2 separate regions of the Homo sapiens genome follow, and region 2 is linked to region 1. The links come from fine-mapping of genetic effects on gene expression. A gene starts in region 1. The other region holds a variant in brackets. All regions are shown on one strand. Distances are from middle to middle. Region 1 holds the start of HPAT5 (human pluripotency-associated transcript 5). Region 2 has its middle 29 kb from the start of HPAT5.

Region 1 (16,297 bases):
ATCGTGTAGGTCCTGGTTCAGAACACACTCGTGTGAACTGTGCACACACACACTCACACATGCACACACACATCCTTTTTATTTTCCAAGTTCGTAGGTCCTTTTCCTTTCCCATGAGCCCTCTGCAGCCTGGGATACAGCACCCACTTCTACAGTCATCCACACTATTTATTGAGCGTCTACCCTGGACCAGGTATGCTTCCCAAGGTACTGGGGTACCACACTGATAAAAGAGCCGGGGGTCTCCATTCTCACAGAAGCCTAGTTCTAGTGGAGGAAACAGACAGTGAACAACTAAGCAAAACAGAGAATTCAAATTCCCATGGTGAGAAGAAGTGCGATCCCAAAATTAGAGCAGCAGATGGAATGATAGGGAGTATGGGGCAGGTACACACGCTATCCACATCGCATCTACACATGGGTGACAGAGCAGCACCCGGGTTTGTAGAGAGCAGCTCGGCTGGACCCAGGCATCACCAGGTCTGCAGCTCAGCAGCCCTTTCTGCCAGCCCCGCAAAGTGGAGCAAGTGGCTCTTTGGGTGGAAAAGATCCAGCTGCGTGCAGTGATTAGCCGAGGAAGCCGTGCTGTGATTGGACAGGTGACAGCGAAGTACGACTGTGACTTGACAGCCAAGGAAGCCGGCCTGTGATTGGACAGCTGAGGGCCAAGTACCTCTTTGTCTCCTGTGCCTTGATGAGCGGCAGAAAGTGCTGATGCTGCTGGAATTTCCTGGGGATTTTTTCTATCAATTATTTTTGTCTATGCAGACAAAGACACAGTGATAGTAAATTATGTCCAAAAATCTCCAAAGATTTCGTGCCTTTGCTCTCACAACCACAAACATCCATACAATTTGAACTCTGTCCTCAAGCGAGATAACGCCATCCTGGGTGACGTGACCTATTTGCAGTCCCTTCGCTCCAGCCGCTATTGCAGCGCGTGGCTTCTAAAATCTCAGCGAGTGTCAGCAGGTGAGACTGAGGCATTTTCCCCGTTTGTTTCCAGCTACGGTGCAATGACCGCCTCTTTTCAGTGGTCCCTTGAGAAGCCACTGTGCCGCTTCTTCCCGCTCAGCGGGCGGTAAGGCCTGTATGTGCAATGTGGGTCTCTCAGCAGCTGCTCCTGCTGGAAACTTCTCCACTGACTTTGGAAAGGATTTGCTGGAAAGCTGTAGAAAGACAGACTGGAAAGGTACTTGATATGATGAAGGGAGAACATCTTGTAAAGACAAGCATTGAAGGTTATTGCTTAAGTTTTGACTAAACATAACATGTATGAAAAATCGTATACATATGCATATGTATACATGAATATAAATAGATACATGTATATATGGACATGCATATATATAAAATATAGGCTCATTGTGTGTGTGTGTAAATATATATCTAGGGAGAGAGAGAGACATCAAACTCTTCTCTAGATAATTAAATTTCTGAGAGGAAAGGGGCGTGTATCCTTTTTTTACTGGATGCACCTATATACTATTCTGTATTTTGTTTTGTTTTGTCTTGTTTTTGAGACGGAGTCTCCCACTGTCTCCCAGGCTGGAGTGCAGTGGTGAGATCTCAGCTCACTGCAACCTCTGCCTCCAAGCTTCAAGAGATTCTCCTACCTCAGCCTCCCGAGTAGCTTGGACTACAGGTGCCCGCCACCATGCTCAGCTCATCTTCCTGTATTTTTAGTAGAGTCAGGGTTTCACTATGTTGGCCAGGCTGGTCTTGAGCTTCTGACCTCGTGATCCGCCCGCCTAGGCCTCCCAAAGTGCTAGGATTACAGGCCTGAGCCACCACGCCTGGCCTATTTCTGTATTTTTAAGAAGAACATCTAATTTAAGAAGAACAAAATTTTTAAGGAAAACTATACTTCTATAAAGGAATTTTCTAGAAAGAACTCTATCAGGTAAGCTAAGCCCCCACCTGCCCTCTGGGCTGCCCATTCTTGTGGTTGAGCTGCTTCCCCAGGCGGCCCCCAGAACTCCCACCGCGGTGGTTGTAAAGAAACTGTGAACCGGAGCGCTCAGGCACCAGACACAGCCACCTGAGACAACGGCAGTGGCAGGGAAGCCGTTTCCACCGCCCTGGCTAACTCTCATCCCCTCTGGCCCCGCAAGCCTAATCAGGCTGCAATCCAGTGTGAGTCCCGGCTTGCCACCAGTCATTTAGGCCCCGGCTCACGTCACCCCCGTGGCTGGCAACTCCTTTTCTCCTGACCGGTTTATGATGAGCTGTAAAGAAGCACACAGTGGGGTTGGTCCCTGGGATGAACCCTGGCAGACAGCTGGCTACATGGCAATCCTGCCTTCAAAAAGTATTTCCTGAATTCTGCACATTAGACAAGGGGAGACCTGTGACAAATGCCAGCCAGGGCCCTTTCCCTTGGCCTAAACGCCATGGCTCAGGGCCAGCCTGCATAGCAGGGAGTGTGCCTGGGCATGGTGTCCCAGATGGTCAGCCACCCTCCCTTGGGCAGGTAACTACACACCTACGTGTCCCACTCAGTGCTGCCCCTCTGCAGTGGTGCCACCTGGCAGGGCCCGAAGGCCCAGACGGTGTGGGAAGGAACAGGTTGGCTTATGCTGGCACAGCCGAGGAGAAAATCAAGCTGATGATGTGTTTTGAGAACTGGAGAGGATTATGGAGAGGACTACAAGGCGAGTAGGAGTTCTGTGCTTACAGCGTGATACCACCAGGGGTCTGGGGTTGGTGGGCTGTGTGCGCTGTGTCCGGCGTTCCCAAGGTAAGGACCCACGGACCTCTGTAGCAAGATCTCCCAATGTTCTCAAGCAGCCACGATTTGTCAACGCACCCACCTGTGGCGACCGCCCTCAGAGTCCCAGACTGTGGGTCTGCACCCCGGACACGGGACCAGGGCCCTTCTCAGGAAAATGGGCTGTGTGTGGGCACTAAAGGCAAGACTCTGTTTTTCCAAGGAATCCCCAATATCCTGTGTTTTTCTTACCCAGTGTGTTCAGTTAATGAATGATATTGAGCTGTGTATTTCCAGTGGCCCGAAAGCCATGATCAGTATCTACTCAAGTGGGCAACATGAGCTCTGTGTGGATAAACCTAATGAACAGGGCTTAGCGGAGAGGATGGGCATGCCTGGCCTTCGCTTTCTAGTCCTCCTCTCCTCTGTCCCCCATCCCTCCCCAGCCCGGATGTTCGGAAGTTGTTTTTAAACCCCTTTACCCCACTGCCTTCACACTGTGTCTCTTATTTTGTAGGAACTGAGTGTCTTGATTTATCTGCTCATCAGCTATTAGTTAACACCAACTGCATGTCATGCACTGGGCCAGACAGTCTCTAGAAGCTCACGCAACTGTTATCCTTGTGATCTATGAAGAAAAATATCACATAAAGTTAAAAAAAAAATAAATACGTAGAAGAAAGATTCCATGCTGCAGTAGAGGGTCTGTAAGTGCTCCTGTGCCCATGGGGGTTCTGGTAAAATCTGCCCCATCCCTAGTGTTTTGAAGATGGAACAAGGCTTGTTCTGCGGGACTGCCCCAGGCCCAGAAGTGAGCAGAAGCCAGAGAGCATTTTGCCCTGGGTTTTGTACTTCGTTTGCATTCAGCAAATATTTGTTGGATTTTAGTAGAATGTACAGAGTCTGCCAAAATAAGAGAAGTATGAACTTTCCGAGAGGAGATTTAACATGCTGTGAGCCCCTGACTCTAGGAAAGTGTTTACTGAAATGCCCTCATGTCAGGAAGACTCAATTTATCTTTCATATGTCTACAGATTTCTTTCCTTTTACCATCTGTGAGCCCTGAAAATCTGAGACAGGTCTCAGTTAACTTAGAAAGCTTATTTTGCCCAGGTTGAGAACGCACCCGTGACACAGCCTCAGGAGGTACTGACGACATGTGCCCAAGGTGGCCGGGGCACAGCTTAGTTTTCTACATTTTAGGGAGATGTGAGACATCAATCAATATATGCAAGAAGTACATTGATTCAGTCTGGAAAGCGGGGACAACTTGAAGCTTCTCAGGAGAGAGATAAGTTTGTACCCCTTTTTGTTACCGACACAGTAAGTTCAAGTTAAGGGCTTGTTGATGGGCATTTCCAGTATCAACCTTGATCCAATCAGGTACCTGATTCAATATTGCTGTATTTCCTTAACAATGAAGCATGCATTTTTTTCCCCTAATTTCATTCATAAGGAAAAAGTGCCTCAATTCTCTGACAGTTCCAAAACACAATTCTTAGTAAAAGAGGCAGATCGTGATCTGTTTGAGTTGTACATCCCCCCAGGCTAATTCACCTGGCGTAGGAGGTGCTCAGAGGCCACCAACATTGCCACAAGGTCCATCTTTGTGGATGGGGTAGGAACAGTGTGCAGAACAAGGGGGCATTGTCTTGGACCCACCGCAAGGACACCCTCTGCAAATGGACTTGGTGAAAATTCCACCCTGGGCCCTGTGGCTATTCCCCTTTCTGTGTGAGGCCAGCAGGGATCAGCTTCCTTCTGTGAAAGGAAAATAAAATCTCGGGAACCCATTCACTATGCCAAAAGGAAAAGTTAAGGCTGGAAGCTGAGTCATGCAAGAAACTGCCTTTCCTTTTGTTCCTAAGCAGATAGCCTCACATAGAAGGCCAGGTGTCTCCACAGGCAGCTGCTCTGTGGTCACCTTATCTTAGATAAGTGCCAACTTACTGAGCATGACATGAATACATAACTGAGTGTTCCCTCTTCCCCTCCTTTTCACACACAACACGTGGATTCAGTAAGTCTAATCAAAGACTCACAAGAATGTGACCCTATGCTCCCTCTTTCCCTTCCTGCTCACTTTTCCTCTTTAAATATTGAAGGCCCAAAATGCTCTTAGAAAAAGCACAGATCTGGGCAACGCGGTGACTCATGCCTGTAATCCCAGCACTTTGGAAGGCCGAGGCGGGCGGATCACCTGAGATCGGGAGTTCGAGACCAGTCTCACCAACATGGAGAAACTCCGTCTCTACTAAAATACAAAATTAGCTGGGCGTGGTGGCGCATGCCTGTAATCCCAGCTACTCGGGAGGCTGAGGCAGGAGAATTACTTGAATCCGGGAGGAGGAGGACGCGGTGAGCTGAGATTGTGCCATTGCACTCCAGCCTGGGCAAAAAGAGCAAAACTCCATCTCGAAAAAGAAAAAGAGAAAAAGAAAAAGCACAGATCACAGATGTTCCTGTGCTTTTGTGTTCCCTGTTCCCAGGCACATCCTCAAACTTGACAGAATAAACCTTTACACTGATTGGGACCAGCCTCAGACACTTTTTGGTTTAGACTTCCTAAGAAACGGTACTGTTGGATCTCTGTGGAGTCATAGTTTGTTACACCAATTCTTTCTTTCTTTGTTATTCACATACAGTGAGAGAGATGACTGAGTCCAGTTTGTTTTATATTTTTGAACTCTGAAATCATGTCAGCTTCCTTGCAGTATAACTTTGACAAAGAGCAAATGTACATTATAAAAAAAGTTTTTCTTGTAATTGTGAGTTCTCAATCACGGGCCCATACTCAATATTCCCATCAAATACAACCCGCTCACACAGCCTGTTATCCTAGGCGTTAACTTTCATCTGAAGCCTCATTTTTGTCTCTTATCTGAAGCCAACTGCATTCCCATTGTCCTGGGGTCCTGTTGGCAGCCACTTCTCCTCCCATAACAATAAGATGCTGTGCAAATTGTGTCCTTTGCTTTGCTCCCCTCATCACTGGTGGACTTGAGATTGTCAGCTGAAATTAAGACTGTTGAGGCAGAAATAATTTTATCACAGTTTATTGAAAGCCAAATGTGAGGTTGGACCTGGGAAGACATACCCACGGAGTTGACAGCATTCTGGAGTCTGTCACAAGGCCAAAGGTTTTTGTAGGAGAGTTTAAATGAGTAGTCTTCTTTCTTTTGGAGGATGCAACTCAGAGGTCACAATCATTACTACAGATTACGACCTGCAGGCTAACAATGTCCACATGAAAACAAATCAGTAAAACTTCATGCTTCAGCTCATCTTAAAATCACAGTGCCCTCTCCAGCGTCAGCAGGTGATACATTGGTCTATACTATACAACAATCATTTGAGGAACTTATGATAAGACAGGGTGCTGTCCCCCGCGACCTCTGGCCAGGTTTCAGCCAGCAAAGGGACCCACAAAGGGAGCCACTCCAGCAGACCTAGACTGAGCGGTCTCGGGGCTCTTTGACTCTCTAAGGACTGAGATATTCATAATTCTTTTTAAATTATCCATGGAAACAGCAGGACAAAAAATGCACAGGGCCTCCTAGTGCCTGGGTGAATGTGCTCAGCCCTCTTTGAAGAGAAACCTCAAGGATACGGAAGTGAAGGCTTTGAAAGACAGGGTTCTATTGAGATGAAGGGTGCCTATTCCTTAACAGCAAGTAATTCATATGCTATTGAAATGAATTTAGCATTTTCCCTTGAAAGCACACAGCATTTTCCCCCTCATTAACAAATGTGCTCCTCCTTCCCCTCCCCCAGCCTCTACAAAGGATTTGAAGGCACCACCTGAGATCAGGGGGCGCCTGCAGGGGGTAGGAGCCGCTCTCAAGGCAGGTGGCCAGCTTTGCTGATCCCGAGACCTCATCCTCGGCTTTTGAGTATCTAATGTACAGTTACATCTGTACCTTGAAACATGAGATTGGGTTTTGAAGTCTCAAACTAATACACATCAATAAAAGGCCAGTGACGGGAACTGAAGAGGAAGTAAGGGCACTGGAATCCTCTCAAAGCAAATACCTTCCTGCGCTCATGGACTTCCTTAAGAACATCGCTTATTACACAATCTCACAGTGAATTGTGGATTGCCTGGTATTGTTTTCTAGGTATTTCATGCAGTCTTGTTTTCCCAGCTGGACTCCACTGAAATTCAGACTAAATTCAACTAACCATCATATGTCAGGCAGTCCTAATCTCTTTCACACATGCCTACTTTTTTTATCCTCCAAGGATAAGGATCTGGCATCTTTGTTGATTTTTCTGTTGCACTGCTCTGCTTGATTTCAAATATACACATAATTTTCGGTGGAAAATTCCATGAGTATTGCACCCTTCGTTTACGGTCATACTCAACTGAATCAAAGAAAGAATATATTTTCTTATTCCTAGTAGCCCATTCTCACTCACATAGAACAAAATATAAGCAATGGGTTAAAAATCTAAACAGAGAGACTGATTTAAGTAATAATAAAACTCTCTTCTCCCGCACAGCTGGCTCTGCGTAAATTACTTTTTCTCTATTGCAATTCCCCTGTCTTGATAAATCAGCTCTGTCTAGGCAGTGGGCAAGGTGAACCCCTTGGGCAGTTACAAATGTGTGGGCTCATCCGGGATTGCCCTTGTGGCTGCCTGCCCATGGTTCAGTAGCCCCCTCTCCAGCGATGGATCCAGAGGCCAGACCAAGCGGCCACGTAGTTCTCTCGGACTAGGGGCTAATTGTGGTATTCTCTCTGCTGGTGGGGCGCTGCCGACGCAATATGCATGGATTTAATTGCAATAGAATTATAGTCCTGGGGAGGCATCTCTTAACTGTAACCCTATCACAGGATGTCTGTCTGTAGCCCCATGGTGGGGTATATGTTTGTAACCCCATTGCAGGATATCTGGGTTGGTGAGTATCCTAGGCATTGCCAATGCCTCCTTCCTTCTGCTGACTGGTTCTGTACCCTCCGGTGGGGTGTCTGTAGCCCCACTGAGGGATGTTGGCTTGTAGCTCCACCATGGGGTGTCTGTGTCTGTAACCCAATTCGGGGTGTCTGTCTCAGTTTGTCTCCTGGGGGTCTCAGTTGGCTCTTTCTTTTATATTTATTTTTTGAGACAGAGTCTCCCTCTGTCACCCAGGCTGGAGTGCAGTGGCACAATCTTGGCTCACTGCAACCTCTGCCTCCTGAGTTGGGATCAAGTGATTCTGCTGCCTCAGCCTCCTGAGTAGCTGGCACTACAGGTGTGCACCAGCATGCCCGGCTAATTTTTGCATTTTTTGTAGAGATGGGATTTTACCACACTGGCCAGGCTGGTCTCGAACTTCTGTCCTCAAGTGATCCTCCTGCCTTGGCCTCTTAAAGTGCTGGGATTACAGGCGCGAGCCACTGCGCCCAGCCTCAGTTGGCTCTTTCTAACTAGTAGAAAGAGTCTTGGTTTGGGAGACTTCTCCTCAATCAGGAAGATTTCGAGGAGATTTCTCAGATGGAGAATAGAAGGACAGTTTGGAAGGGACACTCTTGGAGTTCTTGGTTAGGGATCTGATTTGGAAAACGCTGTGTTCATCTTGTCTTTATGTGTGTTTGTATATGTGGAGGGGATCTCAGAGGGAATTGCTGATGGACGTTCAGCAGGCCTAACTCAGAGAACCCTCCTTATTTGTCTGGTCACATTCGGTGAGCCCTGAAAAATGCTCAGCAGGCCTGTCTCGGGGTGACTATGTGCTCTTCGCCTTGCCCAGAGACCCCATTGTGAATTACCCTTTGGAGGTCATCCCGCCCCAGCTGGGGTGGATCAAAGACAACAGAGACCAACGGGAGAAAGTTTGGGCTTTGCCAGGCTGATAGTGGGTGCTGAATGAGGTGATTCATGTCTGTTTTGTTATGTGTATTTCGCTGGGATGGAAAATGTTAATTGGGTTCCCCAGGCAGCCTGTTGGGCAGCATCTTGCAAATTAAGAATCTTGTCTGTGGTTCCATAACACAGAAAGGGGTGATTTTCTCTTGTAAAGTGGTTTGAACCCCACAGCCATGGCACTAGCGAGCAGGGTCATCAGAGCTGCTCCATTCTTCTGGAAGCTGCAGAGAAAGGGAGCCCGGAAACCTGGTATGCCGGCAAAAAGGGTAAGAAATTCTTACCAGCCAAGTTTCTGGTCTCTCTCTCTTCCTCTGTCTGTGTAAACGGTAATCGTCACTATTTGTCTCTCTGCAAGGGTTTGATTAATAGACAAGGGATTTGTGAGACTACTCTTAGGTTATAGCAAATCTGGTGTACTTTGTGCTGAGAATTTGTCTTTCTGTGTTCTGTAATGGACAGAGGGATAGCACAGGCTAGAACGTGGGTTTAGGACCCCATAACCTGCATTACAAGCCAGCCCAGCAGACTGGTCAGTTACAAATTTTGCTGTGGGTTCCTGAAACCAATACCAGATGAAATATCTCTGTCTTGTTTTGTGTCCTTAAGAGCTTAACCTTGTGACCATGTGCAGACACTTTCTCTTAGATTCGGCCTTAGATTCTCTTAGATTCGGTCTTAGAGGACAGGAATTTTAGAGTTCATGTCATAGCCCTAAAAATTTTCTTGACCAGTTAAAAGCCTTGGCAAGCTTGAAATTGGCTTCTCTAGGACCCTTCTGGGAAAAGCAATAAAAACTGCTCAATGCCATAATACAGTAGCTAAGGCTTTGCCTTTTGATGATGGTGGCCTGGGTTCAATTCTTGCTTTCTGGAATTATTCCTTTCTGATTTGTTAGTTGTGTAATTTTGCCATTTATTGAGTTGTTTTTCCCCCCCCCAGGGAGTTTCTGATTTCTTCTCTTGAATTTTCCTTTCTCTGAACTACCTTGGGAAGATTCTAAATCTTGTAAAAAAGAAACTGCTTACCATGTCTTTGAAGCATCTGGGAGGTCACCTTTGGTAAAGTTCAAAAGCCAGAAATATTGGCCGCCTGGCTAAAGTCGGGTAATAAGAAATTTAAAAGGACTTTTTTTTAAGAGCGCTCTGGTTAAAAGTCAGCTTGATTAAAAGTGGATAAACAAGCTATAGATATATTTAAAAGGCATTTATGTTGTTCCCTTCTTGGATCTTGTTTTTCTGGAAAAAAGGTTTTTTTCTTCTCAGTCGACTTAATTATTTTTCTCAATTTTTTTGTCTTGCTAATCTTAATGCATACATGAGAGGTCCTCTTCTGGTAGCCTGGTACTCCTTGAAAAAAACAGGAGGCACCATAGACCCTGTTTTGGAAAAAAGCTCTGTTTTCCTCATGAAACCCTAGGAACTAAAAGCGGATAGATCCCTCTCAAAATCAAAAGCTCTGCTCTGTTTTGCATTGTGTTATCTGACAGTTTTGAGTTCTTGGGGTTTTAAGAAATTACTTCACATTACGAGAGAGCTTGGGTGTGTAATAACAAGGTAGGAAATACTTTAGGGGATGGCTAGCAGTAGTTATGGAGGGATACTTGACTGCACACTTGGATCAGAGAAGCAAATGCTCGTGGACACCTGGAAGACATGGAAAGGTCCCCACCCTCAGCTGAGAGATGAAGCTCCCGTGGGGGATGGGCTGATTGGCTTTGGGTGGCCTTGCCATGAAATGCACGTAGAAGCATTGCACTGTCTCTTCTCCTGTAGGATTTTCCTCCTTTTGAGGATTCAAGATCCAGTATAAAATGGCACCCTTAACTTTGGGGATCTGTCTTTGCCTTCACCTGTTCCTGCTTATTTGGCCCAAGAATTGCATGCTTTCCTGACTCTGTTCCTTCAAGGGCTCCACCCTGAAGTCAGTAATCCAATTAAGAAAACTGGCAAATGAAAAATGTTACAAGTGCTAAATCTTCTGTATTTCTGTCTGCGTATTTATATGTGTTGGGTGTGTGATGTTTGTATGTAAAAGAGCTCTGATAATTGGCTTAGAAAAATAAGCATGTAAATGAAATATTTTGACAGAAAAAATCTTTAATGCCTTTTTCTTCAAATGGCTTTAGTAATCTTTTGCAAATAAAGACAGTTTTAAAGATTACTGGTAAAATAACATGTCTTGAAAATGTAGGTATTTGGTCTAAATTAAGGTCAGATATCAGATTTGCTAAATGCTTTAAGGTCAAACTGTTTCCTTTGGAAAAATTGTTCAGTTTACCTGCTTTGGAGGATTAGATGACAGAGGAGGCCTGGGGAGCTGTGGAGAGCCATGCCCCTGGCCATGCTGAAAAGAGTCAGACCTCATCTTCACTTCTGCCTGATGTCCTGGGCTCCACCCAGTACATAATTAAAATCACTTACTCATCAGGGTTTTCACTAAAAACAAAAGCTGCTAAGAATTAACAATGTAACATTGAGACCACTGGAGAAACAGCTTTACATACATGGTGTGTAGGGAATGTGTTTTTGATAAAAGATTATAAGAAGGTATGGGAATATGGCTTCTGTTAAAGGGAATGTAATTTTGTCTAGTTCAGAGGGTTTTAAAGATTGTGTTAACCTAAAAGAGTAATGGGATAAAACCGAAGGCTTACTCAAAGTGAAAAGGGTTTGTAAAGGGTTGATTTGTAAAAAAAAAAAAAAAAAAAATTCTGTGGGTATAAACAAGTTGGCTAAGATTTGAAAGAAATTATTTAGCTTTTCTCCATAAGTTAAAACACTAAAACCATACTGATACAGGGCCAGCGTCTGGGCCCACGTGTCCGAATAATAGGGTTTGCTTAGAAAATTGATCTGCTGTTTGATGGAAAATTGGAAAGGGTTCTAAAAAGTTCATGAAAATCTTACCTTATGGTCAAACTAATTAAAACTGGACAGATATATAAAATTTTATTTAAAAACTAGCTTTAGCATTAAAGATGCACTAATGCAAACATGAAATTTGGTTTTCTCTTTTGAAGATGATTTTTATGTAATATTAAAGGATAATGAAAGGGTTTTCTTTCCTCTTTTAGGTAAGTGGCAGGGAAAAAGGGGAGGAGAGAGAAAAGACAGACTCAGTTGGCCTCATGCTATCTTCACTGGGTCTTGTTGGAAAGCTAAGTCTCCTCTATCAGAGTAAAGATTTTTCCTTTTTAAAATTTTTGGAGCTATCATTTTGGCCAAATGGATGACTTATGGTGACCTGGGATGCTATTTTGTGATATTCAGTGTTTTAAACCTTTGATATTTGACAAACGTTCCAAAACCAAATTATAAATTATGTCTCTTTTTAACCTTTTAGATATTAGGTTCTTTAAAGTCCAAAAATGACATTTGGCTTATTTGGTATAAAAATCATACAGAAAGCATTGTCAAATATGACATGGTGTTTGGCTTTCTTTGGGCTATATTTGTGCAAATATGTTATTGACACATATTTCAAAATTATGTAAAACACCTATAATTCTAATATGACTTAGTATAAGTTATCAGTAATAATTATAATTATTATGTTAAATGACTGTGTGCCACAGAGGTAACAAATTTCCTTGCCAATTGTGTCTTTAACTGTGGCTGCCCTAAAATGTTTTGTCATCCACAGGCAATTGTTGTCTCATTTTGGTCCTCTTTTTTTCTTTTTTTTTTTTTTTGGAGATGGAGTTTCACTCTTGTACTCTTGTCGCCCAGGCTGGAGTGCAATGACACGATCTTGGCTGACTGCAACCTCTGCCTCCCGGGTTCAAGCAATTCTCCTGCCTCAGCCTCCTGAGCAGATGGGATTACAGGTGTGTGCCACCATGCTCGGCTAATTTTTGTATTATTAGTAGAGACGGGGTTTCACCATGGTGGCTAGGCTGGTCTCGAACTCCTCACCTCAGGTGATCCACTCACCTCGGTCCCCCAAAGTGCTGGGATTACAGGTGTGAGCCACTGTGCCTGGCCAGTCCTCTTTAAAGGATGGTTTTATAATCAGCTATAAAATTTAACAGGGGCTCTTCAGTGCAGATTTCTGATTAATAACCTGGAGATTGTGACGTTAGAATAGAGAAAAAAACTTTCAAATAGAAGAGTGAATAGTGTTTGGTTGTCTTTGGACTGTATCTGTATAGATATGTTATTAGTATGTGTTTCAAAATTATGGGAAACTTCTATAATTCTGATATAATTTAGTGTTATTAATAATTATAATTTTTATACAAAATTGTTGTATGCCACAGAAGTAAACAAAATTCTAGTCAATTGTAGCTTTAGTAGTGGCTATCTTAAGACTTCTATCATACACAGACATTTCGTCTTGCTTTGGCAGTTTATAATCAGGTATAAGTCTCTTGGGGAATCTGACCTCATACCTCATCTATGCAGTTCCTGTACAAGGTTCCTGACCTGTGGTAAGTAATGAATGTCACTTAGATAACCCCAAGTTACCTTTGGGCCTCAAGAGGAGAGGAATTTACCCAACTCATAGTTATTTGAGGGTACAAACCGATGGCTGGGCTCGGCTTTTAAAAAGTCATATGTGGGATTCCTCATGGAACAGAATTCCATCAAAGCCCATTAAAAAGAGCCTAAGTGAAAAATAATTATTCTTGCTGCAAATGATCAGGCCAAGTACGGGAAGACTAAAGTTGATTTTGTAAACAAATCCGTTCTATCATGATTTGTTTTTAATAAAAATGGGGACTGAAGAGAGAAAAATTATATTTCAAAAGAAAGCTATAGTACACCTGTTGTTAGCTGTTATTGAGGTTTTTTTCTGCAGTTTGGATTAATTCCTAAATTCTTTGTGGGTTAGAAGTCCCCAAACTCATGCTTTCTAATCATTGCTTTTAAAACTGGGAATTGTACTGCTCATCCTAGGACTCGTTATTTACCTTATGGTACACTGTTCAGTTAAATACTGTACTGAAAGTATAGATGAGGGTACTAATGCTTTTGCCATGCAAGGTTTGGAAGCCCAGTCAGACCTGCATGCGTCGCCCAGACAGCAGTAAATTGGTTCACTCCTCTCACCTTGGGGTTCACTCCTCTCACCTTGGGGTTCACTCCCATTCCCACTACGCCCTCTGTCAGCAGGAAGACGCCAGAGCGATCCGCAGTCTTTTCCCATCTTCATAGGCTAACCTCAAGATTAAGGTGTTATAAAACACAAAGGGAGGGATTGAAACTACCTTTGCAAAATTATGACTGAGACAGTGAAAGAAATCTAACTTGATCGACTCCATCTTGCTTCTAACCTGCAAGCTGTCCTTGTCCATTCTTGGACCGAGGCTGAATTAACTTTGGGAGGAACTTAGTTTATAGTTTAAATCAAAGACGGTAACAGCCCTTTCCCAAAGCAGACCTCCTTCTTGCCTGAAGACTAAATTGCCTTTGTAGGGCTAACAATAACCACGAGATAAGAAATCATGGTGGAGGAGTCATGTAGCTGGAGGGTACAAGATTCTGACCCTCCCTAAACTGCTCCTAAGATTAGTGCTTGAGCTATTTTGCCGACCCTGCACTTGATAGATCAGCTGACACCACCCAGATGGATAAACTGGCTCATCTGACTTGCGGCCCCCACCCAGGATCTGACTCGGTGAAAGAAGACAGCTTTGACTCCCTGTGATTTCACCCCTGACCAATCAGCGCTCCCAGCTCACTGGCTTCCCCCGCACCCACCAAGTTTTCCTTAAAAATTCTGCTCACCAAATGCTCAGGAACATTGATTTGGGTAATAACACAATTCCGGTCGCTTGCAAAATTAAAAAAAAATCTAAACAGTACAGCATGTTCTTTATATATTATCTGAAAGATAATTTTCAGAAAAAGGTAAAACAATGACTTGCACCAAGATATTAAAATACACAACTCTTAAAGATTTTATTTTACACATATGATAGAAGGGAACTAGGCAGATGTTAGAAATAGTTTAAAGGAAAAGTGAAAACAATACAAATTTATATGGAGTAAAGGAATTTTGAAATGAGTTGCAAATGGAAAGAAAACTTTTTTATTTATTTATTTTCAAATTTTTTACAGGAGAAAGAAGCCAGTAAAAATCACTACTAGACAGGGCAGAAGATAGATAGATAGATAGATAGATAGATAGATAGATAGATCGATCTATGTCTATATATCTCCATCAGTTACCTGCAATTTGCAAAGAATTGTAAAATAGTTCAAAGACAATGAACAACCCAGAAGTATGTGTTACAGTTTTCCATTGAAACACATTTTTTAAACATATCTAATAGGTATGTCTTAACTAGCGAATTCACACCACTCTTCAGTGAGAGGACTATTTATTGATCATCTGCCTGTGTGTTGCAGGTTGCTGTCTACCTTTTTCAAATTTGAAGCAAAGATTTTCATTAAAAGATTTTCACTAGAATTAATTAAAAATCAAAGCCCAAATCAAAACAGAATACACAGCAAGCTGTGCTAGTGACATGGATGACAACTTCTCCTGGGGATTACAACTCTCAGGGTGACATCCGTGTAGATGATTCTGTAACTGTTAAAATGAAAAACTCCCACCCTGTGGGAACAGAGCCGGGTGAGCCCTGGCTTCCACACAGTGCCACCCTGAGAAGGCGAGGTCTCCCCAGCGTCTGTCTGCAGTGCAGCCAGGGCGGAGGAATGAAGTGTCACAGCAGGAAGCAGATGGCTGCATTTGCAGATAATCAATCTAGAGACTTGCAGCCCTGAGTTTCAGGGGAACTTGTCTAAGTAGCATCCTGTCGCTGGAAGGCATCTAATGAACTAAGTTACTGGTGTTCTTGCTTGTCAGATAGCCCTGGAACACTGTCTGGATTTTATAATCATTTTCTTGAGATTGACAAAGTCTAAATTCTTGCTGATCATTGACGAGTCTAAGTTGTAAAGAATGCTACCCATGGATGGAACTTTTTGCTTAAACTTAAGAAAGGGAGGAGAAATAACAGCAGCGGTGCCCCGTGAAGGTTTCCCAAACATGGAGGAGTCCTGGTATAAACCATGCCTTGGACCCACAGCGGAAGGAGGAGCACAGCACAGCTGGGATCACGAGGACTCTGAAGTCTCCTGGGACGTGACAGGAGCAGGCTCAGCCACTGTGCACAGCGTGCGTCCTTGAGCAGGTCACCTAAACTGCCTGGGTCTCACATCCCTGCCATTCATGGTGTTGGGGCTTGCCCTGACTTTGTACCAAGATCAGAGAGGGGCTTATAGTAGGGAGAACCCAGGCAGCGGGAGGAGGCACTTCCAAGCCCCCAAGGGTAGGCGTGGCCTTCCCGGCCCCCAAGAGTGCAGGGATGCCAGAGGCTGCAGCGGCAGATTTGGGCGACTGCGGGTGTGCAGGGTGGGGGCTCCTGCCTGCGCCATGGAGCTGGAGGCCCCTGTCTGCAGCCCCAGTTCGGGCGGCTTCCGCGAGCGCAGCAGTGCCTAGGAGCATGCAGGGCTCCTGCCTGCCCCCACCCACCCAAGAGCAAAGGGAGGCTCAGATCTGCAGCCGCAACATGGGCGGCTGCAGCCCTGTCCAGGAGGGTGGGGCTCCTACCCGCCTGGATTAGGAGGTCAGGTCAGCATCCCCAGTTTGGGCGGCACCCTGGAGTGCCACAGCACCCAGGAGCGCACGGCTCCTGCCTACCCTCAGCCCTCCAAGAGCACACAGAGGCTCGTGTCTACCGCCCCAACTCGGGCGGCTGCAGCCGCGCGGGAGAGATTGGCGGTGCTG
Region 2 (16,297 bases), 30 kb after region 1:
GGGAGCTTCCCAGGAAGTCTCAGCTCACCTGCAGCCTTCGAACCAGGAGAGGCTCCGTGAAAGAGCAGGTGCGTGGACCGGCTGGAGGAGTCAAGAGAACTGATGCCTTGAATGAATCCAGATGAGCAGCCACCATTGTCCTAAAACACCCTTGTTCCCTTTGGAAAGGGTGGGCCAGTTCTGTGTAGGTTGGGAAGGTGACTGGGACCCAGGACGCCCCATGGCAAGCCAGCTTCTGCCCAGGAGGTGCTGGCACCGGGCCGCAAGATGGGACATGGCCTGCTGGTGAGGGGTGGTCCCTGAGCTGCCACTGCAGCCTCGACATGTCTCCACTTGGAGATAAACAGCAGCTTAGGCCTGGGGGGCATCTCTGCACCCAAGAGCTCCGGGTGCATTGTCTCACTGCTGTTTGTCCAGTCTCAAGGGCTTTGATTTGTTCTGCCCACACCTGTGACCACAGCTGCCCATGCCAAACTTTCCTGCGGGATCGTCCTAATAGATCCGCGGGAGCTGGTGGCTCCTCTTCCAAAGCCCCAGACTTTCATGTGGATCACCTTTCTTCTCTGTCCCCAGGATGCTCGAGGTCTGGCCTCAACCCTGTCATCATTGTCAATCCCTGCGGCTCCTCCTTCCAGGGAGGCTGGGCAGAAGAGCAACAGGAGCAGGTGCTCAGGGGCAACACAGAAGACAGGAGCAGGTGCTCAGGGACAACAAGTACTCAGGGGACAGAAGGTGCCAGGAGGTAGTAGGTGTTCAGGGGGCAGCAGGTGCTCAGGGAGCAGCAGGTGCTCAAAGGCAGTACAGCAGACAGGAGCAGGTCATTTCTAAATAAGTTTAAAAACTGAAACATGAATTACTAAGCATGAGTTTAAAGTTTATATCCTTTGACATCGTGTTTTTACATAGTATAGAGAAGCTAAATGTATTTGGTTCTATTAATAAACATGAAAATTGTCCGGGTGCAGTGGCTCACACCTGTAATCCCAGCACTTTGAGAGGTTGAGGAGGGCAGATAGCTTGAGCCCAGGAGTTTGAGACCATCCCAGGCAATGTAGTGAAACTTTGTCTCTACAAAAAAATACAAAAATTAGCCAGGCGTGGTGGCTCCAGTTTTGACTGCAAGGATGGACCCCTGAAAACGCCCAAGGCTTCAGAGGATGACCGCTAGAGCCAGCAGTTTCTCTTTCCATAATCAATCATGTTATTTGATAGTTATGAGAGTTGATTCAAGATTGAGAGATGGAATAGGCTGTTATTACTCAGGCTCATTTCCTAAAGTAAATCATAATTTATAGATGTGGGACACATAGGCTTTGAGATTCCGATACAATTAGTGCAAACATTTAGAAGATAAATTGGCCTCCATTCCAAGGTAACCAAATGGATCCCTTTTTTAAGAATTGAGAATACTATAAAACAAAGATGCAAAAATACCCAAAATTGATCAATAAGGATCACGCAGAGATTTATTTTTTGAAGACAATACTAACATTTCAAATGTAGGAAATACTATTTTATGCTTTAAACAGGGACATTTAGTCTCGAGTTCTAGTTTTAATGCCCTAACCTGGTTTATCCATAAAGTGGAGAGAGGCTAGTGCATAAATTCATGTGGTACAGCCAATCTTATTCATTTTTTCTCAAGGGACAGTTATAACCAGAATGAACAAAGCCTGGAATTCATTAACAGAGCTTACAGGGAAGGTGAGTGGTTTCGAAGCATTTTTACTAATCCTTTGATAAGTCACCCTGATGTGAGAGGTGGATTTAGCGACTTGCTTATGCCAAGTAGCATATGGCAAAAGTAATGATATTTCACTACTGCACGTATCTGCAAAGGGAGCACTCACTCTGGGGCAAGCCAGGCCTGTGTCATGAAGACACTCGAGCAGCCCTGTGGAGAGGCCCAGGCGTAAGAAACAGACGCCTCTTACCAACAGTCAGTGAGGAACTGAGGTCTCCTGCCATGAGCCATGTGAGTGCGCGATCTTGGAGGTGGGTTCTCTAGCCCCTGTCAGGCAGTCAGATGATGCAGCCCCAGTCACATGCAATCAAGTCTAGGTTCTTGATATTCTAGTTACTTAAAGATTGTCAAGCAAGAAGTCATTTCTTCCCCGGCTATGCTATTCAAAGGTTCATGAATCTTTTGGATTTTGTATATTTTAGAAATTCCAGAATTTATCAGTAGGAACCAGAAATAGAATATCCAGCAGGAACGGCATGATGTATAAAAAAATATAGTCCTTTTTGTACATTCCCCTCTTCCATTATTCTAACTGTATCTACCTTCAAATCACACCTAAGATTTCAGGGATAGACCCTTTACCTCGAAGATAATGAAACCCATCAGATTATAATTTTTTTTTTGTTATGGACAATTCCCTTCCCTAATATTTCTCAAACTGAAGGTTGTAATCTACTTCAAAGAGTCGTCCAAGGAAGGCATGGTGATCGACGAGTTTCAAATAACTATCAAATACATTTATTTATCCTAAAAACGTTGACAGTAATGATAGAAATACTCATTTTTAAAATTCTTGAATTCTGATACATAGTTCTATTTTAAAGTCCTGAAATACCAGTATTTTTTTATTGGTATACTACAATTATACCACTATTTTTGGAAACTAAGGTCTGAATTATTAACTTCTTTTTTTTGAGATGAGGTGTCATCTGTTGTTGTTCAGGCTGGAGTGCAGTGGTGCAATCACGGCTCCCTGCAGCCTCAGATCCCTGGGCTCAAAGAAATCCTGTGAGCATGGCACTGTACCCAGCTGATTTTTTAATGGTTTGTAGAGACAGGGCTTTGCTTTGTTGCCCAGGCTGGTCTCAAGCTCCTAACATCAAGCAATCCTCCTACCTTGGCCTCCCAAACTGCTAGGATTACAGGTGTGAGTCACCATGCCCAGCCTTTATTTATCTCTTAAAATGAAAGTCATTGACTAAACTATTCAATTTTGTGCCAAAAAAAAGATGAACTAATGTGCAGTCTTCAAAACTGATAGGATTATTCTGGAAAATTTTGTACATACACACACAAAAAAAGAAGCATTGATGACTTTTGTTAAAAACACCAAATAATATGTCATTTTAAATGTTTATGAACGATTAATTTCTTATTTCAATATAATGCTTAGTTGATTATTTGTAATAAAAGTTTATTTTTGTTTATGTGCTAATCCATTAGGATGTGATATAGTTTGGATATTTGTCCCTACCCACATCTCATGCTGAGTTGTAATCCCCAATGCCAGAGGTGGGGCCTGGTGGGAGATGTTTGGGTTCTGGGGGTGGGTCCCTCATGGCTTGATGCTGTCTTCTTGAGAGTGAGTTCTCATGAGATCTGGTTATTTAAAAGTGGGTGGCACCTCCCTGCCCACTGTCTCTCACTTGTTCCTGCTCCTGCTCCTGCCATGTGATGTGCCTGCTCCCCCTTTGCCTTCCGCCATGATTGAAGCTTCCTGAGGCCTCCCAGAAGTAGAAGCCGCCATGCTTCCTGTATAGCCTGTAGAACCACAAGCCAATTAAACTTTTTTTAAATGAATTACCCAGTCTCAGCTATTTCTTTATAGTAATGCAAGAATGGCATAATACAGGATGATAATATGTTGAAGGTTTATAGATTCAAAAAATGTATTTTAGTTAATTTGAAAAATAATGTAAGAAACACATGATAAATATTCAATTACGTTTGTGAAATACACTAAATCCCTACCTGCTTATTTCCTAGCTGGGCTGCTATAACACAGTGCCACTCACTGGGTGGCTTTTACTGCTCACAGTTCTGGAGACGTGGACATTTACAATGAAGACTGATTAGGGCCAGTTTCCTGATTCACAGATGGGGCCTCTCGCTGTGTCCTCACATGGCAGAGGGACAAACAGGCTCCCTCTCTCTCTTTTATATGGGCACTGATCCCATACATGAGAGGTCCACTCTCAGGACCAAATCACCCCCTTGAGACCCCACCTCTCAACACTATCACCATAAGGATTAGCCTTCAGCATCTGAATGTGTGGGGAGGAAGCACAAACATTTAGATCACAGCGCCCTGTCCCTGGTTTCCCAAAGTTCACATCTTCCTCACGTGACAAGTACATTCATTCCATCCCAACAGCCCTACAAGTCTTAACTCGTTCCAGCATCAACTCAAAAGTGTGAAGTCCAGAGTCTCATTTAAACATCGTCTAAATCAAATACGTGTGTGATTTAAGGTAAAATTCATTGTGAGACAAACTGCTTTCCAGCTGTGAGCCTGTAAAATCAAACATGTTATGTGTTTCCAAATTCAATGGTAGGTGTTATGGTTTGGACTTGTGTCCCCACCCAAATCTCATTCAATTATAATCCCCGGTGTTGGAGGTGAGGCCTGGTGGGAAGTGATTGGATCATGGGCCGGAGTTCTTAAGAATGGTTTGGTACCATCTCCCTTGGTACTGCATAGTGCGTGAGTTCTCATAAAATCCAGTTGTTTAAAAGTGTATAGCACTTGTCCTTCTCTCTCCCTCCTGCTCCAGCCATGTAAGATGCCTGCTTCCCCTTTGCTTTTCACCATGATTGTAAGTTTCCTGAGGCCTCCCCAGAAGCTGAGCAGATGCCAGCATCATGCTTCCTATACAACCAATGGAACTATGAGCCAATTAAAAAATACTTTCCTTATAAATTACCCAGTCTCAGGTATTTCTTTGCAGCAGTGTGAGAATGAACTAATACAGCAGGATAGGCACAGGATAGACATTCCCATTCCAAAAGAAACAATAGGAAAGAAGGAAGGGGAATGGGTCCTAAGTTCAAAACCTGAAGGCTGAAGAAAAATCTTTTTGACTCAATGTTCTGCCTTCTGGACACACTTCGTTGGTGGCTGGGCCCCCAAGTCTCTGGGAAGCTCCATCCCATGGCTTTGTTAGGCACTGGCAACTCTCATGGGTTGGAGTCAAATGCCTGTGGCTCTTCCAGACTGGAATTCCATGCTGGTGGCTCTACTAGGCTAGGGTCATGGGGCAGCCCCACTCCTTTTGGCATTTCCCTATTGTGGACATCTGCAGTCGATTCACCCTTGAGGTGACCCTCTGCCTGTGTCATGTGTCTGAGGCTCTGGGTGGCTCCAGCTTTTGAAATTGAGGTGGAGGTAGCCATGCCACTGTAACTCATGTGCTCTGTGCACCAGCAGAGATAGCACCATATGGACACTGCCAAGCTTTATAGCCTTTGACCCCTAGAGGAGAGGCACCGGCTCCCATACCACCTGGGGCATCAAAGAGCATTGTGCTGGGATGTAGGGAGCAGAGCTTTGAGGTTATTCTGCCCCTCAGGCCCTGACACTGAGTCTGTAATGGGAGGGGAAGTGCCAGGAATCTGAAATGCTGCTAGGATCATTCTTCCACTCTCTTCGTGAATATCTCCTGGTTGATCCACACCAATCTTCTTATCTAATGATTGCTTTGCTACACTCTTTGTGCTCTCTCCCAAACACACTTTCTCATTTTTTTACAATATGAAAAGGCTGAGAATTTTCCAAATTTTAAGTTCTGCTTCCCTTTTGATGAGAAAAAATCTGTCCTTAAGTCATTTCTCTCTTTTTACATTTTACTATATAAGATTTCAGGAGAAGCCAAGGCATGCCTTTAACCCTTAGCTTAGAAATTTCTTCAGCCAAGTATTCTATTTAATTCCTCTCATGTTCTACCTTCCGCAAAACACTGGGACACAAACACAATTTAGCCAAGCTCATTGCCACTTTATAACAGGCATTGCCATTCCTCCAGTATCCAATAGTATGTTACTCATTTCCATCTGAGACCTCCTTGGAATGGCTTTAACTGTCCATTTCTATGAACATTCTGATGACAACCACTTGGACCAGCTCTCAGAAGACTCAGGCTTTCTCTACAGCTCTCCTTATCTCCTCAGAGCCCACCCAGAATCCCCTTTAGTGATCTCTTTGTGGCCATGCAGGCTTTTTTCCAGCAAAACTCTTCTAGGCTTTCCCCATCACCCGCTTCCACTTCCATCTTTTAGGTATTGGTTACAGCAGTACCCCAGTCCTCAATACCAATTTCCTTAGTCTGTTTGGGCTTCTGTAATAATATACCATAAGCTGAGTGCATTATAAAGAGAAGGAATTTATTTCTCACAGTTCTGGAGGCTGAGAAGTCCAAGGTCAAGGAATAATTGGTGTCTAATAAGGCCCCATTTTCTGACTTGTGCATGTAGCCTTTTTGCTGTGTCCTCACATGGCAGAAGGGACAAAAGGCCTCCCTCCAGTCTCTTTTATAAGGGAACTAATTCCACTCATGAGGCTCTTCCCTCATCACCGAATTACCTCCCAAAACGCCCACCTTTCCACACCATCACATTGGGTATCAGATTTCAATATACACACTTTGAGGGGACATAGACATTCAGACCACAGCAGTCATTTTTCTTTAGTGGAGAAAGAAACTCGTAAGTGTGCCCCTCAGGGGATCGTTCATCACCTAGATACTTTGCCTGCAATTAAGATACACTCTCACCAGGGGGCGTTATAGTCCAGGCAGCTATTTCTCCATAGGCATTGTTACCACCAGGAAATCCAGTTACACTTACATCTAACTACCCTCTTTTAATGAGAATATATCTCAAGAACATGAAGTTATTCTGATGCTGCTAAATGTAAAACAGTAGGTCACTTGTCCACACTCACCTGAGACTGAGGCAGTGCCACGCTGGGCCTGAGTGTCTTTCATTTCCTGGTGTTGGACTTTGAGCCATTAGAACCGTGAGCAGCTTGCAGTGTGTCCTTGGTGGGCCCAGCTTTCTGGGGTTACCAGCTGCAAGGTGGCGAGTATTCAGCTTGCCTCTGAAGAGCCTTTGTCTTGCTTTCCGGAGGTGATGGCCAACCGCACAATGACTAAAAGCTCCTTTCCTCTGAAGAGGAATCAGGGCTCAGATCTGCGACATAGCCCTTGAAAACTGAAATTTGGCTTTTTGCCCCCTTATGGATTTAGCCTGAATGTCTTCCGGAGTCTAAGGATATGTTGTCTGTAGTCTAAGGATATGTTTTCTTGATGATGATGTTACTGATGGAGGGAACAATTACAGCTTCCATTTATTGAGGGTTGACCATACATCAGGTGCTGTTTTGCTTTCATCATCAGTAGTTAATTATTACTAGTAATTGTTTGTATGACTTTCTAGAGGGTTTGCTTTAATATATTCAAATAAATACACATTTCTACTCCTCTTTTACTTAAATGGTAGCATACTATATACACTGTTCCATACCTTGCTTTTTTCTCAATAATTTACCATGGAGTACTTTTCTCATTAATATATAAGGAGGGGTTTTTTTTTTTTCTTTTGAGACCAAGTCTCTGTTGCCCAGGCCAGAAGGCAGTGGTGCAATCTCGGTTCACTGCAACCTCTGCCTCCCAGGTTCGAATGGTTCTCCTGCCTCAGCCACCCAAGTAGCTGGGATCGCAGGCATGCCTGGCTAATTTTTGTATTTTTAGTAGAGATGAGGTTTCACCATGTTGGTCAGGCTGGTCTCGACCTCCTGACCTCAGGTGATCCACCCACCTCGGTCTCCCAAAGTGCTGGGATTACAGGTGTGAACCACTGTGCCCAGTCAGGGTTGTTTTTGTTTGTTTGTTTGTTTTTCTTTAAAAAAAACAACAACAATTGTATAATGTTCTTCTGTAAGGAAGTGACGTTTATTTAACCTATCCCCAACTGAAGGGTATACCTGTTGTTTCCGATCTTGCTATTACACACCGTGCTGTAGTGAATGCCACATGAAACTGTATACATCACATAGGGACAGATGTATGTCTGCCATTGTGATGGGCTGTGACAATTTACACTTTTGAGCAATACATAAAAACACTTACTAGATGCTTCTCCCCACCCATCCCAGTAGTACTAACAAATTATTGAATCTTTCCCAGTGCTGCAAACATGTTGTCTCATTTAATTCTCACACCAGCCTGTTTACTGGGCGTACAATTGCCGTGGTTCAGAACTGTGCCGTGAGCTCACCTGGCTGGGGAGAGAGGGCTGGTTCTCAAGCAATGGTGTTATGCTGCATTCCCAGTAATCCCTTTATCTTAAATTTGGTTAGGATGTTTCTCTAATCAGATGTGCAGAAGGTTATCATTTTATTCAATTATATATATATATGTATAAATATACACACAGACGTATACCCTGCCTCTTACAGTATATTTATTCAACCTGACTTTTGAAAGGTTAAAAATAAATTTGTAGCACCTACATATCCCTATTAAAGTACTGAAACTTCCGTTTTATTAATGGGGTTTCCTTTTCTTCTTGGCTGTGGATTTTTAGATAGTTACCTTTAATGTATTATCAATTTCTGTCTTGAATCCAGGTAATCAGATTTTGTAAGTAAGAAAATATGAGGGGAGGGGCCAAGATGGCCAAATAGGAAAACTTCTGGTCTGTAGCTTCCAACGAGAACAACGCAGAAGGTGGGTAATTTCTGCATTTTCAACTGAGGTACCCAGTTCATCTCACTGGGACTTAGGCAGTGGGCCCAACCCTCAGAGGGGGAGCAGAAGCAGGGTGGGACATCAATTCACCTGGGAACTACAAGGAGCTGGGGGACCTCCCTCCCCCAGCCAAGGGAAGCTGTGAGCGACTGTGCTACCCAGCCCGGATACTACACTTTTCCCCTGGTTTTTGCAATCTGCAGATCAGGAGCTTCCCTCTTGTGCCTACACCACAAGGGCCCTGGGTTTCAAGTGGCTGTTTGGGCAGACACTGAGCTAGCTGCAGGAGTTTTTTTCATACCCCAGTGGTGACTGGAACCCCAGCAAGACAGAATCATTCACTCTCCTGGAAAGGGGGCTGAAGCCAGACAGCCAAGTGGTCTCGCTCAGCAGGTCCCACTCCCACGGAGCCTCGCAAGCTAAGAACCATTGGCTTGAAATTCTTGCTGCCAGCACAGCAATCTGAAGTTGACCTGGGACAATCAAGCTTTGTGGGCGGAGGGGCATCGCCATTACTGAGGCTTTGGTCGGTGGTTTTCCCCTGACGGTACTGAGGCTGGGAGGTCTGGACTGGACAGAATTCACCACAGTGTGTCAAAGCAGCTGTGGCCAGACTGCTTCTCTAGATTCTTCCGCAATGGGCAGGGAATCTCTGAAGGAGGTTAACAGCCCCAGTCAGGGGCTTACAGACAAAACCCCCATCTTCTGGGGACAGAGCACCTGGGGGAAGGGGCAGCTGTGAGCGCAGCTTCTGTGGATTTAATCATTCCTGCCTGCCTGCTCTGAAGAGAGCAGCTGGTCCTGACAAGAGGGATTCTCCCAGCACAGCGCACCAGCTCTGCTAAGGGACAGACTACTTCCTAAGTGGGTCCCTGACCCCCCCTGCCTCCTGACTGGGAGAGACCTCCCACCAGGGGTCAACAGACACCTCATATAGGAGAGCTCTGGCTGGCATCAGGCCAGTGCCCCTCTGGGACAAAGCTTCCAGAAGAAGAAGCAGGCAGCAATCTTTATTGTTCTGCAGCCTCCACTGGTGACACCCAGGCAAACAGGGTCTGGGATCTGCAGTGGACCTCCAGCAAACTGCAGCAGACCTACAGAAGAGGGCCCTGACTGTTAGAAGAAAAGCTAACAGAAAGCAACAACATCAATATCAACAAAAAGGACCCCCACACAAAAACCCCACCCAAAGGTCATCAGCCTTACAGATCAAAGGTAGCTAAATCCATGAATATGAGGAAAAAGCAGCACAAAGTGCTGGAAATTCCAAAACCTAGAATGCCTCTTCTCCAAATGACCACAACTCCTCTCCAGCAAGGGCACAAAACTGGACAGAGAATGAGACTGATGAATTGACAGAAGTAGGCTTCAGAAGGTGGGTAATAACAAGCTCCTCTGAGCTAAAG[G/A]AGCGTGTTCTAACCCAATTCAAGGAAGCTAAGAACCTTGATAAAAGGTTACAGGAACTGCTAACTACAATAACCAATTTAGAGGGGAACTTAAATGACCTGATGGAGCTGAAAAACACAGCAGGAGAACTTCATGAAGCACACACAAGTATCAATAGCCAAATGGATCAAGCAGAAGAAAGGATATCAGAGATTGAAGATCAACTTACTGAAATAAGGCGTGTAGACAAGAATAGAGGAAAAAGAATGAAAAGGAACTAACAAAGCCTCCAAGAAATAAGGAACTATGTGAAAAGACTAAACCTATGATTGATTGGTGTACCTGAAAGTGATGAGGAGAATGGAACCAAGTTGGAAAACACACTTCAGGATATTATCCAGGAGAACTTCCCAAACCGAGCAAGACAGGCCAACATTCAAATTCAGGAAATACAGAGAAAACCACTAAGATACTCCTCGAGAAGAGCAACCACAAGACACATAATCATCAGATTCTCCAAGGTTGAAACGAAGGAAAAAATGTTAAGCACAGCCAGAGAGAAAGGTCAGGTTACCTATAAAGTGAAGTCCATCATACTAACAGTGGATCTCTCTGCAAAAACCCTACAAATCAGAAGACAGTGGGGACCAATATTCAACATTCTTAAAGAATTTTCTTTTCTTTTTTTTTTTTTTTTTGACAGAGTCTCACTCTGTCACCCAGGCTGCAGTGCAGCGGCACAGTCTCAGCTTACTGCAAACTCCACCTCCCAGGTTCAAGCTATTTTCCTGCCTTAGTCATCCGAATAGCTGGGACTACAGGCATGTGCCACCACACCCGGCTAATTTTTGTATTTTTAGAAGAGACGGAGTTTCACTATGTTGACCAGGCTGGTCTCGAACTCCTGACCTTGTGATTCATCTGCCTCAGCCTCCCAGAGTGCTGGGATTACAGGCATGAGCCACCGTACCCGGCTAAAGAAAAGAATTTTCAACCCAGAATTTCATATCCAGCCAAACTAAGCTTCATAATCAAAGAAGAAATAAAATCCTTTACAGACAAGCAAATGCAGAGGGATTTTGTCACCACCAGGCCTTCCTTATGAGAGCTCCTGAAGGAAGCGCTAAATATGGAAAGGAAAAACTGGTTCTAGCCACTGCAAAAACACACCAAAATATAAAGACCAATGACATTATGAAGAAACTGCATCAACTAATGTGCAGAATAACCAACTAGCATCATGATGACAGGATCACACATAACAATATTAACCTTACATGTAAATGGGCTAAATGCCCCAATTAAAAGACATGGACTGGCAAATTGGATAACGAGTCAAGACCCATCGATATGCTGTATTCAGGAGACCCATCTCATGTGCAAAGACACACATAAGCTCAAAATAAAGGGAGAGAGGAATATTTACCAAACAAATGGAAAGCAAAAAAGAGCAGGGGTTGCAATCCTAGTCTTTGATAAAACAGACTTTAAACCAACAAAGATCAAAAAAGACAAAGAAGGACATTACATCATGGTAAAGGGATTAATGCAACAAGAAGAGCTAACTATCCTAAATATATATGCACCTAACACAGGAGCTTCCAGATTCATAAAACAAGTTCTTAAAGACCTACAAAGAGACTTAGACTCCCACACAACAATAGTGGGAGACTGTAACACCCCACTGTCAATGTTGGACAGATCAACGAGACAGAAAATTAACAAAGATATTCAGGACTTGAACTCACCTCTGGACCAAGCAAACCTAATGGAAATCTACAGAATTCTCCACCCCAAATCAACAGAATATACATTCTTCTCAGGGTCACATAGTATGTATTCTAAAATTGACCACATAATTGAAAGTAAAATGGTCCTCAGCAAATGCAAACTAACAGAAATCATAATAAACAGTCTCTCAGACAACAGTGCAATCAAATTAGAAACCAGGATTAGAAAACTCATTCAGAACCATACAGCTACATGGAAATTGAACAACATGTTCCTGAATGACCACTGGGTAAATAACGAAATTAAGGCAGAAATAATGAAGTTCTTTGAAACCAGTGAGAACAAAGAGACAACGTACCAGAATCTCTGGAACACAGCTAAAGCAGTGTTAAGAGGAAAATTTATGGCACTAAATGCTTACATCAGAAAGCTGGAAAGATCTAAAATTGACACACTAACATCACAATTAAAAGAACTAGAGAAGCAAGAGCAAACAAATTCAAAAGCTAGCAGAAGACAAGAAATAAGATCAGAGCTGAACTGAAGGAGATAGGGCCATGAAAAACCCTTCAAAAAAATCAATGAATCCAAGAGCTGTTTTGTTTTTTTTTTAAGAAAAAATTAACAAAATAGACCACTAGCTAGACTAATAAAGAAGAAAAGAGAGAAGAATCAAATAGACACAATAAAAAATGATAAAGGGGATATCACCACCGATCCCACAGAAATACAAACTACCATCAGAGAATGCTAGAAACACCTCTACACAAATAAACTAGAAAATCTAAAAGAAATGGATAAATTCCTGGACACATACACCCTCCCAATACTAAACCAGGAAGAAGTCGAATCCCTGAATAGACCAATAACAAGTTCTGAAATTGAGGCAGTAATTAATAGTCTACCAACCAAAAAAAGCCCAGGACCACAGAGATTCACAGCTGAATTCTACCAGAGGTACAAACAGGAGCTGGTACCATTCCTTCTGAAACTATTCCAAACAATAGCAAAAAAGGGACTCCTCCCTAAGTCATTTTATGAGACCAGCATCATCCTGATACCAAAATCTGGCAGAGACACAACAAAAGAAGAAAATTTCAGGCCAGTATCCCTGATGACCATCATTGCAAAAATCCTCAATAAAATACTGGCAAATTGAGTCCAGTAGCACATCCAAAAGTTTATCCACCATGATCAAGTCAGCTTCATCCCTGGGATGCAAAGCTGGTTCAATACATACAAATCAATAAATGTAATCCATCACATAAACAGAACCAATGACAAAAACCACATGATTATCTCAATAGATGCAGAAAAGGCCTTCGATAAAATTCAACATCCCTTCATGCTAAAAACTCCCAATTCACTAGGTATTGATGGAACACATCTCAAAATAATAAGAGGTATTTATGCCAAACCCATAGCCAATGTCACAGTGAATGGGCCAAAGCTGGAAGCATTCCCTTTGAAAACTGGCACAAGACAAGGATGATCTTTCTCACCTTTCCTATTCAACATAGTATTGGAAATTCTGGCCAGGGCAATCAGGCAAGAGAAAGAGATAAGGGTATTCAAATAGGAAGAAAGGAAGTCAAATTGCCTCTGTTTGCAGATGATATGATTGTATATTTAGACAACCCCATCATCTCAGCTCAAAAACTCCTTAAGCTGGTAAGCAACTTCAGCAAAGACTTCAGGATACAAAGTCAGTGTGCAAAAATCACAAGCATTCCTATACACCAACAATAGACAAACAAAGAGCCAAATTATGAGTGAACTCCCATTCACAATTGCTACAAAGAGGAAAAAATACCTAGGAATACAACTTACAAGAGATGCAAAGGACCTCTTCAAAGAGAACTACAAACCACTGCTCAAGGAAATAAGAGAGGACACAAACAAATGGAAAAAACATTCAATGCTCATGGATGGAAAGAATTAATATAGTGAAAATGGCCATACTGCCCAAAGTAACTTATAGATTCAATGCCATGCCCATCAAGCTACCAGTGACTTTCTTTTCAGAATTAGAAAAAACTACTTGAAATTTCATATGGAACCAAAAAAGAGCCCATATAGCCAAGACAATTCTAAGCAAAAAGAACAAAGCTGAAGGCATCACGCTACCTGACTTCAAACTATACTACAAGGCTACAGTAACCAAAACAGCATGGTACTGATGCCAAAACAGATATATAGACCAATGGAACAGAACAGAGGCCTCAGAAATAATGCCACACATCTACAACCATCTGATCTTTGACAAACCTGACAAAAATAAGCAATGAAGAAAGGATTCCCTATTTAATAAATGGTGCTGGGAAAACTGGCTAGCCATATGCAGAAAACAGAAACTGGACCCCTTCCTTACAACTTATAAAAAAATTAACTCAAGGTGGATTAAAGACTTAAATGTAAAACCCAAAACCATAAAAACCCTAGAAGAAAACCTAGGCAATACCATTCAGGACATAGGCATGGGCAAAGACTTCATGACGAAAACACCAAAAGCAATGGCAACAAAAGCCAAAATTGACAAATGGGATCTAATCAAACTAAAGTGCTTCTGCACAGCAAAAGAAACTATCATCAGAGTGAACAGGCAACCTAAGGAATGGGAGAAAAATTTTGCAATCTACCCATCTGACAAAGGTCAAATATCCAGAATCTACAAGGAACTTAAACAAATTTACAAGACAAAAACAAACAACCCCATCAAAAAAGGTAGGCAAATGATATGAATAGACACTTCTCAAAAGAAGACAGTTATGCGGCCAACAAACATATTTAAAAAAGCTCATCATCACTCATCATTAGTGAAATACAAATCAAAAACCACAATGAGATATCATCTCACGCCAGTTAGAATGGCAGTTATTAAAGTCAGGAAACAACAGATGCTGGTGAGGCTGTGGAGAAATAGGAATGCTTTTACACTGTTGGTGGGAGTGTAAATTAGTTCAACCATTGTGGAAGACATTGCAACGATTCCTCAAGGATCTAGAACCAGAAATACCATTTGACCCAGCAATCCCATTACTGGGTATATAACCAAAGGATTATAAATCATTCTACTGTAAAGACGTATGCACATGTATGTTTATTGCAACACTATTTACAATAGCAAAGACTTGGAACCAACCCAAATACCCATTAATTATAGACTGGATCAAGAAAATGTGGCACCTATACACCAAGAAATACTATGCAGCCATAAAAAAGACTGAGTTCATGTCCTTTGCAGGGAGATGGATGAAGCTGGACGCCATCATTCTCAGCAAACTAACACAAGAACAGAGAACCAAACGCCGCATGTTCTCATTGATAAGTGGGAGTTGAATAATGGAACACATGGACACAGGGAGGGGAACATCACACACCGGGACCTGTTGAGGGGTGGAGGGCAAGGAGAGGGAGAACATTAGGACAAATACCTAATGCGTGTGGGGCTTAAAACCTAGATGACGGGTTGATAGGTTCAGCAAACCACCATAGCACATGTATACCTATGGAATAAACCTGCACATTCTGTTCATGTATCCCAGAACTTAAAGTAAAATTTAAAAAAATATACAAATATATATATATAATTCAGTCTGCAAGTTTTAAGATGTTTTGTGGTTGGATGAGATTGTAAGTGTAAAGCAAATATGTGAAAAATGTGTCCTGTGTTTTATTCCTGTTTGAGCGAAGTGATTTTTTTGTCTACTGAAGATCTTTTATGACAACAGGAATCATATTTGAATTTTTTTTTCTTTTTTGAGACAGAGTCTCGCTCTTTTACACAGGATGGAGTGCAGTGGTGTGATCTTGGCTCACTGCAACCTCCGCCTCCCAGGTTCAAGTGATTCTCATGCCTCAGCCTCCCAAGTAGCTGGGATAACATGCATACGCCACCGTGCCTGGCTAATTCATATTTGAATATTATCTGCTTTTATGTTTTTTATTATTTTATATTAAGTTTGAATAGTGTACTTTATTTTAATTGTCTAAAGAAAGTTACTGTTTAGTTTAAAATACTTCCATTTTTGCTTATAAAAAGTCCAGAAACAAATTGACGTCTAAATGAGACAAAATTCATCATCTCATTGTTGTCTGGTGATGGAAATGCAAATGCAAATGGATGTGTAAATTTTATGGTACTTTACCTTTAAAAATGTTTTTTGAGCTTTAGTTCCCTGGCAGACAGTTGAGAGGTCACCTCCCTGCTGTAAGACCAGTACAACAGAGCACCTATGTGTACACACATGCCCTCCCTGGCCCAGAAGAGACATATTCCTTGAGTACTCAGAGTGCTAGCTAAAGGATTTTGAGCATACTGAGACTATGGCAATTAAAAACATAAACAAATGAACTGAAAACAATGACAATATTTATCACATAAACCCTTTTCTACTTGTTGTCTTATCAATGTCTCTAGCTTAGTTATCAGAATTCACTTATAGTACATAGGCAAAGTATGTACATAGTACAAAGATCCATTATTTTATTAAGTGACTTTCTTTTTACTTCTTCATCACATAAAAATGGGGACATTATATTGCTTTCTTTAAAAGGTTATGTTATCTGTGAGTCCTATTAGAAGACAGCAAAGGAGCATTATAAAATATGTGTTACAGTGGGGTGCTGGGTCTGAGACAGCTGAAGCTGTGTTTATCAACGCACTGTTCGTAGCATCACTATTCTCAGG

The links. PIP is the estimated chance that this variant, and not a neighbour inherited with it, causes the effect.
Region 2: its variant is fine-mapped to the expression of HPAT5 in hypothalamus (GTEx, PIP above 0.99).

Annotation. Positions count from the first base shown.
Region 1 is chr6:167,219,572-167,235,868 of GRCh38, forward strand. It overlaps HPAT5 (human pluripotency-associated transcript 5), which reads left to right and starts at 8,729. Exons shown (of 4, transcript NR_157263.1): 1 at 8,729-8,826; 2 at 12,256-12,386; 3 at 12,908-12,989. RefSeq lists enhancers at 1,750-2,367, 2,368-2,984, 4,484-5,262, 6,258-7,059, 8,173-8,705 and a silencer at 12,434-12,572.
Region 2 is chr6:167,249,608-167,265,904 of GRCh38, forward strand. No RefSeq gene overlaps it. Among named protein-coding and RNA genes, the nearest start is that of HPAT5, 29 kb to the left of the region's middle. The variant G/A (reference allele first, on the strand shown) is at 9,897.